3 linked regions of the Homo sapiens genome follow. The protein of the gene in region 1 interacts with the protein of each later gene in a biochemical or structural test. Each region holds a gene or a part of one and is shown in the gene's direction. Other genes may lie near its edges.

The links.
Region 2: the proteins of CNKSR2 (region 1) and PDZK1 interact in a test that uses a peptide from one of them, tested with the Homo sapiens proteins (one large-scale study listed by IntAct).
Region 3: the proteins of CNKSR2 (region 1) and RADIL interact in a test that uses a peptide from one of them, tested with the Homo sapiens proteins (one large-scale study listed by IntAct).

The regions. Positions count from the first base shown.
Region 1 is NC_000023.11:21,380,918-21,384,417, forward strand, and holds part of CNKSR2 (connector enhancer of kinase suppressor of ras 2), read left to right. Parts: intron 1-3,500.
Region 2 is NC_000001.11:145,676,176-145,679,902, reverse strand, and holds part of PDZK1 (Na(+)/H(+) exchange regulatory cofactor NHE-RF3), read left to right. Parts: intron 1-1,257; coding exon 1,258-1,454; intron 1,455-3,689; coding exon of another isoform or gene 3,690-3,727. UniProt on the Homo sapiens protein: A scaffold protein that connects plasma membrane proteins and regulatory components, regulating their surface expression in epithelial cells apical domains.
Region 3 is NC_000007.14:4,799,990-4,803,716, reverse strand, and holds part of RADIL (ras-associating and dilute domain-containing protein), read left to right. Parts: coding exon 1-171; intron 172-1,721; coding exon 1,722-2,064; intron 2,065-3,406; coding exon 3,407-3,546; intron 3,547-3,727. UniProt on the Homo sapiens protein: Downstream effector of Rap required for cell adhesion and migration of neural crest precursors during development.

The DNA.
Region 1 (3,500 bases):
GAAAAAAATTGAGTCTAAAAGTTTTAATTGTTCATGGCTTTTTATTGTTTAGTGTCTGATTAAAAACAGCAAGTATAGTCTTCAATGTGGAATCATTGTGTTGAATTACATTCGGTGAGGGAATTCACAGTTTTCATGTATAGCATAGGCCTGTATTCCTCAAAATGGTATATTTTTGTGGTTGTGGAAGCCAAATGATCAAAAGAAGCCAAAGAGTTGTGTTTTTTTTGTTTTTTGCTAAGCTTTTTAAAACATTATATTAAAACAAACATGGATATTATATTCATGATGTAGAAAGCAAAATTGGCATTATTTCAAAGATGAGACCAGAGACTTAACAGGAATTTTAGGCTTGCAACAGGCTGTTTAAAGCTGTATTCTCCAGACCTCCCAGGGCTGAGTACACTCTTTTGAGCAATTACAGATGCATCAGTGGAAAAGTTGGAGAAGTGGTGGTTGAGTTTAAAAAAGGTAAAATTAATGTACTCTGTTTCCCTTTTTTTCCTATTACCACAAGGCACAAAATATGACCATTTTCAGTCGAGGTCATGATAATTGTAGCATCTTAATTTTGTTTATTTGTTTGATCCATACACCTGCAGTCAGGATGAATTCCTTGAAAATAAATCTCATCCGATCTCATTCTCTCACTTCTTACCCTCATCAGTTTAAAACAATTTAATGACTTCTCATTGTTTTTAGGATAAAGGTCAAAGTCCTTAACATGGCCTATAAGACTCTTGAAGGTTTGGCCATTGCCTATGAGGTAAGCGTCATGCCCAGCACCAAGTATGCAGGCTGCCTCACCGTCCTTCCTGTTTGCCTACCACTGGACATTTGCACTTAATATGTTCCCTATCCCTCTTCACCTAGTTAAGTCTTACTCACCCTTCACGTCTTAGGCTTTTTCTCATCCACCTTAGGAAAGCCTTTCCAGATTTGTTAAATCACATCAAATCCTCAGTTATATGCTGTCCTAGTACCATGTATATCTCCTGTGTCCCATTCACCAGTTTTATTTTTATATTAATTTGGATGGTTATTTGATATCCAACTCCCCCACTAGATGAGTGCAGGGACCCCATCTATTTCTTGTACCAGTGTGTAAAAAAGTATCTGGTATGAAATAGGCACTTAGAAAATATTTGTTGAGAGAAGGAATAAATTAATTTATTCACAGATTACTGGTCTGTCAGCAAATCTGCTTTCCTAAATGACAATGCACGTAAAGTCCCTTATAATGCTCTAATGGATACTTCAGTGCCAACTTGTATATTGTGTGCCAGAATACAGTAGAAGTAGGGTTGCTTTATCCATTTCTCATAGTTGTAGTGCTCTAGCCAATTCAAAGATACGAATCATGGTTTAAACTTATTTTGTTACAAAATATTAATAATTTCAGGAAATTAATAACACTTTGGTGTTTATGCCATATTATAAATAGTATAAATATTACTTACTAATATCACTTAGTAAGACAACATGATAAGCAAATACTTATTAAAACATTAAAACACACTCCTTCTCCTAAGCATTTATTTCCCTTCATTCAAATTTTCTAATTGTTTCTTCATTTGGGTATTTTTTAAAGAACTCTATATATCTTAGAATGCATGATGGAGTGAAATTGATCAGATGTCTTAATTTTGTCCTCATAAAAATAAAAACAAAAAGCTCATATAAAAAATTAAAATGCATTATTCTGTTGTGAGGATATCCTTTATTTGTTAATTGGGACGATAAAATGGAAAAACAACCCTTGGGCTTAATGAAACCATTATCTTATTTATTATATTTAGTGTTCAATTTGCATTTTTATTAATAGGAATACAATTAAGGTATTTAAAGGTGCATCTTAAATCAGCATTTTCTTGTGTAATTTTTCACCGTTCCCTCTGATTTTGAAAAAAAGAAAACTTTAAAAACTAGATGTAAGTTTATCATTACTAATTTTTGAAGGGCACTTGTTAAGAACATACGTACAGAATTATTGCAAAGCATAGTTTGCTAAATACAGGTGCCTCAAGTGGATTTTCTATGAATTACATGCTGCTAGATAATCACTAGTAGGCAACTTACCAAAATTTTTCTAATAAAGCCTGCCTCCTCCCAATTTAGAATCATTAAAATACAAATCAGAGTAAGTGAAATTGTAAAGATCTTAATAGGCATGCCAGTTTGTTAACTCTTTATAAAACACCATCAGGCTTAAATGCTCTAGCTAGTACTGCAAAACAATGGATTGCAATTGTGCCCTGATTTGACTTGCAAACAACTATTCTACAAGATGGAATTTTTAAATTTTAAAGATGTATTTAATTTATTGTTTGATTTTAATTTAAATCACAATCATTAATTCTAATGGAAGTTTTCATTATCTTACTCTTGCAATTTCAGGAAAAAAGAGTTTGTTGCTATTTGCATAAATGCATTGAACTTTAAATTTTACTAAAGTGCAGTAATAACTGTTTTAGCTCTCTTTGTTCATCTGTTGACTATTTTACCACAACATAAAATTGTTTGAAAAATCAAAATTTATTTAGTAAACCAAAACTTGCACTGACACCAATATATGATAGTTTGTCATGATAAAAATATTGTTACATAACTAATATCAAGTATAGCATACATGACTCTTATGTGTTTACTTGGCATTAATGTTCTTAGAAATTAAGTAGGTTGGATGGTCTTTAGATACAGTGGTAGATAAGAAGAAACCTCATTAAATTAGTTGCGTTTTTAAATGTTGCTCAATATCTTTTTTTTTTTTTGGTGTTTGTTTGAACTTTTTATTTTGTTCCAGATACATCTGCTATTTTTAAAACAGGCTTGCAACATGTTTTCTTAAGTAATAGCTAGAACAAATCGATGGAAGCCTGGCTTAGATCCTAGATTTTCCTTTTTTCAACTTATTTACCAAAGATTGTAAAAGAATCTATTTTCTAGTAACTTGTTAGTTATACTTAGCAATGTAATTTATTAGTAAAAACCTTTAACAATGCTGGCATTAAATAATACAGCTGAATGATTAATGTTAACACTGGCTGAATTTTTGTTTTAATTTTGGTGTGTTTTTTATGTGTATATAGGAACTTATTTTGTATATTTTTTCAGAAAATTGATATTTTAATTTTGTGAAAATCATTTATATTTTGGTTTTCAAAACAGGCCATTGGGATATTAAATACATATAACAGAGAAAGTGTAGAGATTTTGCTCATGATGCTCAAAACAGACATATAGTAGTCCAGTGGCTAGTTTTCCTCCTGGCCTGCTGGAACTTACGTAGAAACCAAGTTTGATGTGGTATAGAGCTAGCATGATATGGCAGGGCTAGGTGCTCTTTCCCCATTTCCTATTATATTGGTGTCAGGATGAGCTTTGTGGCAGTCTCTGTTGGCACTAATGTTACATTAAATCAAAGGAACAAGGCTTCCTTATCCAGAAGCCTGCTCTGTTGCCTTCTAGCTGTCAGACCAGAGACTTTCAGTTTGATGTTG
Region 2 (3,727 bases), on another chromosome or scaffold:
TGTAGTACAAGAATTCGTTGGAAAGGTAGGTTGGAGAGAGGTGACAAGGGGACTTCTATGCAAGACTGATGAGTTTGAACTTGGCTTATCAGACAATGGGGAGTTGTTTTTTGAGCAGTATAAGGGAGAAGAACAAAAACCAGCCTATAATGTCTTGGGGGCTTTGCACATCTCAATTACTCCTAACAATTATGCAAGAAGAACTGCTGAAATTGAGGGCTTGGAGAAGATACAGTAATTATGTAAGGTCAAATAGTTGTTTAGTTCCAAAGCCCATGCTCATTCTGTTGCACCAGGAAGTGACTTGGTTAGGAATGTGCACCAAGATGGATCTGAAGGCAGATCTGTATCAGACAGAAGGACTGGGGAAGGGAAAGCAGTAGGTAAGGTGCTGTAATAGTTTAGGTAGAATTCTAGGCAGGAACTAATACAAACTGCATTCAGGGTAGAGGAAGTGGGATGTGTAAGGTATTATGGTAGCATCAGAGGACTTAGCAATCGTCTAGATATGGGGACTGGATGCTGGGGAAGAATCAGTTGCCAAGTGTTGGTGACTGGGATGATGTTGCTCCACTAACAGGTAACCAAGAGGAGGGGCTTTGGGATGGAGAATGGGCAGAGCTGATTTTTGGCTTGAATACATTACAGTTGAGAGATCTATGAGATATTTTGTTGGAGATACCCAGCAGCTAGCTGGAAAAGTGAAACAGGAACTTGTTAAAAAAAAAAAAAAAGGCAGCATCTGGTGAAGATACCAGAAGGCCAAAGCACATGGAGGCATGTATATACAAATATATTCAAAACCGAACACACCCAATTGCTACTAAAATGCCAGCCTGGGTTTCTTAAGGTCCAAAGTTTTGGGTTTTGTTCTTTATTCTTCCCCATCTTTTATGACAGCTTTTACATAAGACGCGTGGCTACAAGTATGCCCACTGACTTTCTGGGAACTTGCAGCCTTTTAATATGCTATTTTGCCAAAATCAAATGTCAGACGCTTTTAGTAACAGGATTATTTTCGTTAAGACCCCTTCATTGTTAATTGCTGGGTTAGTTTCTGGGGTGAGTTCTGAGCAGGAAACGAGCCTAGATAGTGTGCTTATAAGCTTCCTGGGATGCTGGTGGAAGGGGTGGTAGTTGTACTCAGCATGCCTTTTTTATCTGTTTCATCAGGGCTTTGGGCTCCAGCAGAAAATCTGTTTTATTTTTTTAGGGGACTTACTGATAATTTTATTTTTTGGGGTTGGGGGAGGGTAGGTCAAATCATCAAGGACATAGATTCTGGAAGTCCAGCAGAGGAGGCTGGCTTGAAGAACAATGATCTGGTAGTTGCTGTCAACGGCGAGTCTGTGGAAACCCTGGATCATGACAGTGTGGTAGAAATGATTAGAAAGGGTGGAGATCAGACTTCACTGTTGGTGGTAGACAAAGAGACGGACAACATGTACAGACTGGTAAGTAATACAAGGCCATATATTCATGCATTAAGGCTGGGCCCATTCACTCATGACCTCAACTTTTGCACTGAGTTAGGACTTTGTTCCTCAAACTGGAAGAGGCATAACAATCATCATTAAGGCTAAACTGAAGCTCAACTCAAATTGGTAGTGATAAGAGAATGCCAAATGATTGATAAATGAGTTTTAAGTCCTTGGTCTTAAGATTTTGAAAGAATTTGTGAATATAACTGCAGGCTTACTCTTGGTGATCTGAGAAAATCTATGGAGAATATAAGCCTGGAAATAAAATTGTTCCCAAAATAGGAAACAATTAGATTTTAAGCTTTAGGTCAGTTAAGTGCTATCAACTGCACATAAAAGCCTAGAAAGGATTATTAAACAACTTGTAAGCCCTTAGCAAATAAAAAAGAAACACAGATAGACCAAGACCAACCTGAATCAAACTAACTTTATTTTCTCTTAACAGCTCTTTATCATAACACCCACTACTGCATGTTTTAAGGTTTTTTTTTTTTTTTTTTTTTTTTTTTTTACTTTTAACACAAGAACTGAGGTTGTCTAGTTTAACAGATAACCTGGGGGGCCTTCTAAGTACCATCTGTCTTGCTAAGTGTTGATTGTAAAGATGAACAAGATAAATGTCCTCTGTGATATACAATGATAGTAGAATCTAAAATAAGCGGTACAGAGGGGGGAATATGATGGGTGGTGATATCTTAGGCCCTCCTCATAGATTAGGAAACCGAAGCTTAGAGAGACTAAGCACTTTGCTAAAGTCACGCAGCTTAGTAAAGACTGAAGGTGGTATCTGAACCCAAATTCTTGGACCCGTAATTCATTATACCATACTCCCCAGCACATTTTTTCAAGATAATCTTGTAAGCAGGATTAAACAATTAATTAGATTAATGGCTTTTTTTTTTTAGCTACTTGAACAATCATACCTAGAAAATACTTGATATCAACCTGAATATCAACTTGAATAGAAGTCTCTAATGGCATGCTACTTGTTCCTAACCGTTTATGTGCTTAAAGTTGAAAGGAGATATGGAAAATATATTAACATACTTAAAGTGGCACTAGATAATTCATTTGCTGGATGGTGTAATTAATACTCAAAATATTTAGTTAGGATAGAAAGAATGAAAACTAAAGAAATAAGAATAAATTTCAGATGTACTATACTAACCTAAAAGTAAATTGTATGAATACCACATGGTGAGACCTGATTTGAGGACTACAGAAAAAGACCAGAAACTTCATAGTCCAAGTGGTTGCCCCATCCAAATATGGTAATTTAAAAATTAACTGACAGACACTTGGCTTCTAGAGATGACCATCTTACTGTACTTACTTGGTCAGACCATACTTGGAATACCTGGTAATATAGTTACCACCTCTCTCTGTGCTTCAGTTTCCTTAGTTGTAAGAGAGGGGTAGTAGCTACAGCGAAGGGTGGCTATGAGGGTTGAATTGGAATATTCAGAGCATGTAGAATAATGCCTCACACATCTAAATGTTCTATTTGTTCAATCAATATTGTGTCCGGTTTCAAGAACTTCACTTTAAGAAGGCAATGACAAGGGTAACCAGGGAAGAGGTTTTGGAAGCCACCATGTGAGTATTTAGCTTGAGTAAGGCTTTGGAGAAGAGAGCATCTTCAAGAATTTGAAAGGCTATTACATGTAAGAAGGAGCACACTTTTTTTTTTTTTTTTTGAGACGTTGTCTTGCTCTGTCACCAGGCTGGAGTGCAGTGGTGCCATCTCAGCTCACTGCAATCTCCACCTCCCGGGTTCAAGCGATTCCCCTGCCTCAGCCTCCTGAGTAGCTGGAATTACAGGTGCGCACCACCATGCCCAGCTAATTTTTTGTATTTTAGTAGTTTTACCATGTTGGCCAGGATGGTCTCGATCTCCTGACCTTGTGATCCGCCCGCCTCGGCCTCCCAAAGTGCTGGGATTACAGGTATAAGCCAACACGCCCGGGCCACACATTTTTTTTAAGGTGTCCTATGGGGCACAACAGGACCAGAGAAGCCATAGGGAGCTAGCTTTTGGCTTAAGAACCAACTGAAGCTGCCAGAAATGATGAGTCATTTTGCAGTTGGTGGAAAGTCAAGCAGAAATCAGAGGCGGCTGCTGCAGCTGTTTGTTGTAAAGGGGATTCTGACCCCTCCTGATCTTATCATAGAATGATTTAATTGTAATTTTTCTGTTTTGGTTAATAGAGAACTTTGATCGAAAAAGAAGCCTGCCCTCATCATCT
Region 3 (3,727 bases), on another chromosome or scaffold:
GTCCTGCCCAGCGACGGCTTCCAGGTGGACTTGGAAGCCAACTGCCTGGACGACAGCATCTACCAGCACCTGCTCTACGTCCGCCACTTTCTGTGGGGTCTGCGGAGCAGAGCCAGCCCCGGCAGCCCTGGCAGGCCTGGCAGTGGGGCCTCCCAGCCAGTGTGCCCCGAGGTACCCGGGGAGGGGGCCCCCCAGCCAGCGTGCCCCGAGGTGCCCGGGGAGGGGACCCAGCCAGCGTGCCCCGAGGTGCCCGGGGAGGGGGCCACCCAGCCAGCGTGCCCCGAGGTGCCCGGGGAGGGGGCCCAGCCAGTGTGCCCCGAGGTGCCCGGGGAGGGGGCCACCCAGCCAGCGTGCCCCGAGGTGCCCGGGGAGGGGACCCAGCCAGCGTGCCCTGAGGTGCCCGGGGAGGGGGCCACCCAGCCAGCGTGCCCCGAGGTGCCCGGGGAGGGGGCCCCCCAGCCAGCGTGCCCTGAGGTGCCCGGGGAGGGGGCCCAGCCAGTGTGCCCCGAGGTACCCGGGGAGGGGGCCCCCCAGCCAGCGTGCCCCGAGGTGCCCGGGGAGGGGACCCAGCCAGAGTGCCCCGAGGTACCCGGGGAGGGGGCCCCCCAGCCAGCGTGCCCCGAGGTGCCCGGGGAGGGGACCCAGCCAGCGTGCCCCGAGGTACCCGGGGAGGGGGCCCCCCAGCCAGCGTGCCCTGAGGTGCCCGGGGAGGGGGCCCAGCCAGAGTGCCCCGAGGTACCCGGGGAGGGGGCCCCCCAGCCAGCGTGCCCCGAGGTGCCCGGGGAGGGGACCCAGCCAGCATTCCCCGAGGTGCCCGGGGAGGGGGCCCCCCAGCCAGAGTGCCCCGAGGTGCCCGGGGAGGGGGTCCAGCCAGCATTCCCCGAGGTGCCCGGGGAGGGGGTCCAGCCAGCATGACCCGAGGTGTCTGGGGAGGGGGCCCCCCAGCCAGCGTGCCCCGAGGTGCCCGGGGAGGGGGCCCAGCCAGCGTGCCCCGAGGTGCCTGGGGAGGGGACCCAGCCAGCGTGCCCCGAGGTACCCGGGGAGGGGGCCCCCCAGCCAGAGTGCCCCGAGGTGCCCGGGGAGGGGGTCCAGCCAGCATGCCCCGAGGTACCCGGGGAGGGGGCCCCCCAGCTAGAGTGCCCCGAGGTGCCCGGGGAGGGGGTCCAGCCAGCATTCCCTGAGGTGCCCAGAGAGGGGGTCCATCCAGCATGCCCCGAGGTACCTGGGGAGGGGGCCCCCCAGCCAGCGTGCCCCGAGGTGCCCGGGGAGGGGGCCCAGCCAGCGTGCCCCGAGGTGCCCGGGGAGGGGGCCCAGCCAGCGTGCCCCGAGGTACCCGGGGAGGGGGCCCCCCAGCCAGCGTGCCCCGAGGTACCCGGGGAGGGGGCCCAGCCAGCATGCCCCGAGGTACCTGGGGAGGGGGCCCCCCAGCCAGCGTGCCCCGAGGTGCCCGGGAGGACAGGAGAAGGGTTGGAAGCTGGGCTGGGGGCAGCAGGCGGGAGCTCTGGGAACCCCGGGAGTCCTGGCCCAGCGCAGGCTGTGCTCCGGATGGCGGGGAAGCCCCTTTGCCTCTTGCGCGTCTCAAGCTGCACAGGCTGCGGGAGTCCTTTGCTGACCTCTGCCCCGCGGCCTGGCGGCCCTTCTGCTGCAGGCTGCCCAGTTGCCCGAGTGCTGTGTCCACCTGGCCACTCCTCTACCTGAGCTGTCACCCTTCCTCTCCCTAGGGTATGCACCACGTGGTCCTTGACGGGCACCTGGAGGCCCCGAGCTGCCCCCTGGCTCCCAGGGACCCTGGCCCAGCAGCCCGGGAAGTGGCCCCGGAGCGTACTCTTCCCTTGAGGGGGGCTCCCTGGGCACAGGCCCCCCCTGGAAGGCAACCCAGCCGTGGGGGCTCCCAGGCTGGCCCCCCGCACACGGACTCGTCCTGCTTGCTCACGCCTCCCAGCACTCCACTTGGCCCTGAGCCTGGGGACCCCGACTGGCCAGAGTCCGGCGGCCCCTGTGGAAAAGCGCTCCCAGAGAGGCAGAGGAACGGACTCAGCGGCCTCCGGGGTGCAGCTCCGGAAGGTGAGCCCTGCCTGGTGCTCAGGCGGGAACCCACCCCAGACCCCGCACAGCACCCTGATGGCCGGTCCCCTGGGATCGTTCCCCCCTTGGGTCCTAGGTTTCCTTACCTGCCCCACAGACACCTGCAACCTGAGACGGGGCCAGATGGAGAGGGCTCAGGGCTGCTCAGCCCCCAGCAGCTGGGCCACACGGTCGCTCAGTCGCTGACACGTCTTGGGCAGATACTCACTGTGATCTGGGAGGGAGAGAGTCTAGAAAGTGGCTCAGAGTCACTCCTGCACTGGGCAGAGGAAGGGATGGCTGAGCCAGTGGAGAGGATGTGCTGAGGGGGAACCCAGGGGTCTTCAGGGAGAAGGTGGAGCTGGAGTCCTCCAGGGCAGGGCCTGTGTGTGCCTGTGTGCTTGTGCGTGTGGATATGTGTGCTCACAGGTGCATGGGTGTGCTGGTGCGTGTGTGCATGGGTGTGTGCATCTGCATGGGTGTGTCTGCATGGTGTGCATTGTGTGTGCATCTCTGCATGGGTGTGTCTGCATGGTGTGCATTGTGTGTGCATCTGTGCATGGGTGTAAGTGCACGTGTGCATGGGCATGCTTGCACATGTGTGCATGGCTGTGAGTATATGTGTGCATGAGTGTGTGTGCGCAGCTGGCCTAGGCTGGGGAGGGCATTGAGGGTGAGGCAGCCCCAGCCGGCCCTGGCCTCCTGTGAGGGGCTTGGGTGTGCCTTGCAGGAGCGAAGTGTCCTGGGTGCGTGTGCAGAGTCAGAGTGTCCCCTGTGGCTTGGGGCCACCTGGCCAAGCTGGGTCCCAGGCAGGCCACTTGCTCAGGTGCACAGCTCATCTCTGACCTAAGTGCACCCACGGCAGGATCACCATTATGGAGAGGGCACCAGCTGGTGGCCCTCAGGGCAGGTGCTTGGGCTGGGCTGGGCTAGGGCCTGGGGCCCCGGTCTGGTCAGCGGTGGGAACCCTCAGGGTGCACATGGCCACATCTGGGTGTGGAGGGAGGAGGAGGAGGAGCAGAGATTGCTGAGGAGGTGGCACAGAACCGCGTGGGTCCCTGGAGCTGGAAAACAGCCGCCCCCAGAGGGGCGAGTGTCCTGGGACTGCCAGGGGCGGGGACTGAGGTGCTCCCTCAGGGAACATGGGGGTGTCGCCCATGGGCGGACCCCGACCCTAATGTCTGGGTTGCCGGTCACATTCTGCCTGAACAGCGTCTCCTGGGAGCCACAGGAGGCCATCCCATCCCTGACGCCCTACAGAGGCAGCCAGGCCAGGACATCCCATTCCTCGTCGTGATTCCTGGCGCCTCACTCCCACCCACCTTTCCTGGCCCCCACCCAGGAGACTCTGCAGCCCTTGCGGAGGAGTCCCCTCCAGCCCCGTCCAGCCGCAGCTCCAGCACCGAGGACTTCTGCTACGTCTTCACGGTGGAGCTGGAACGAGGCCCCTCCGGGCTGGGGATGGGCCTGATCGACGGGATGGTGAGTGGCCCAGGACCCTCGCCGCACCCCCATACTGGCTGCCTGGCCCCGCCTGTTCATGCAAGCCTGGCCGCAGCTTGCGTGGCCACGTGGCTACAGGAAGGCCTTCGGGGAGGAGAGTGGGGTTGGCCTCTGCAGCTGGGAGGGGAACCCAGCCTGTCCAACGGCCACGCCCCCTGGG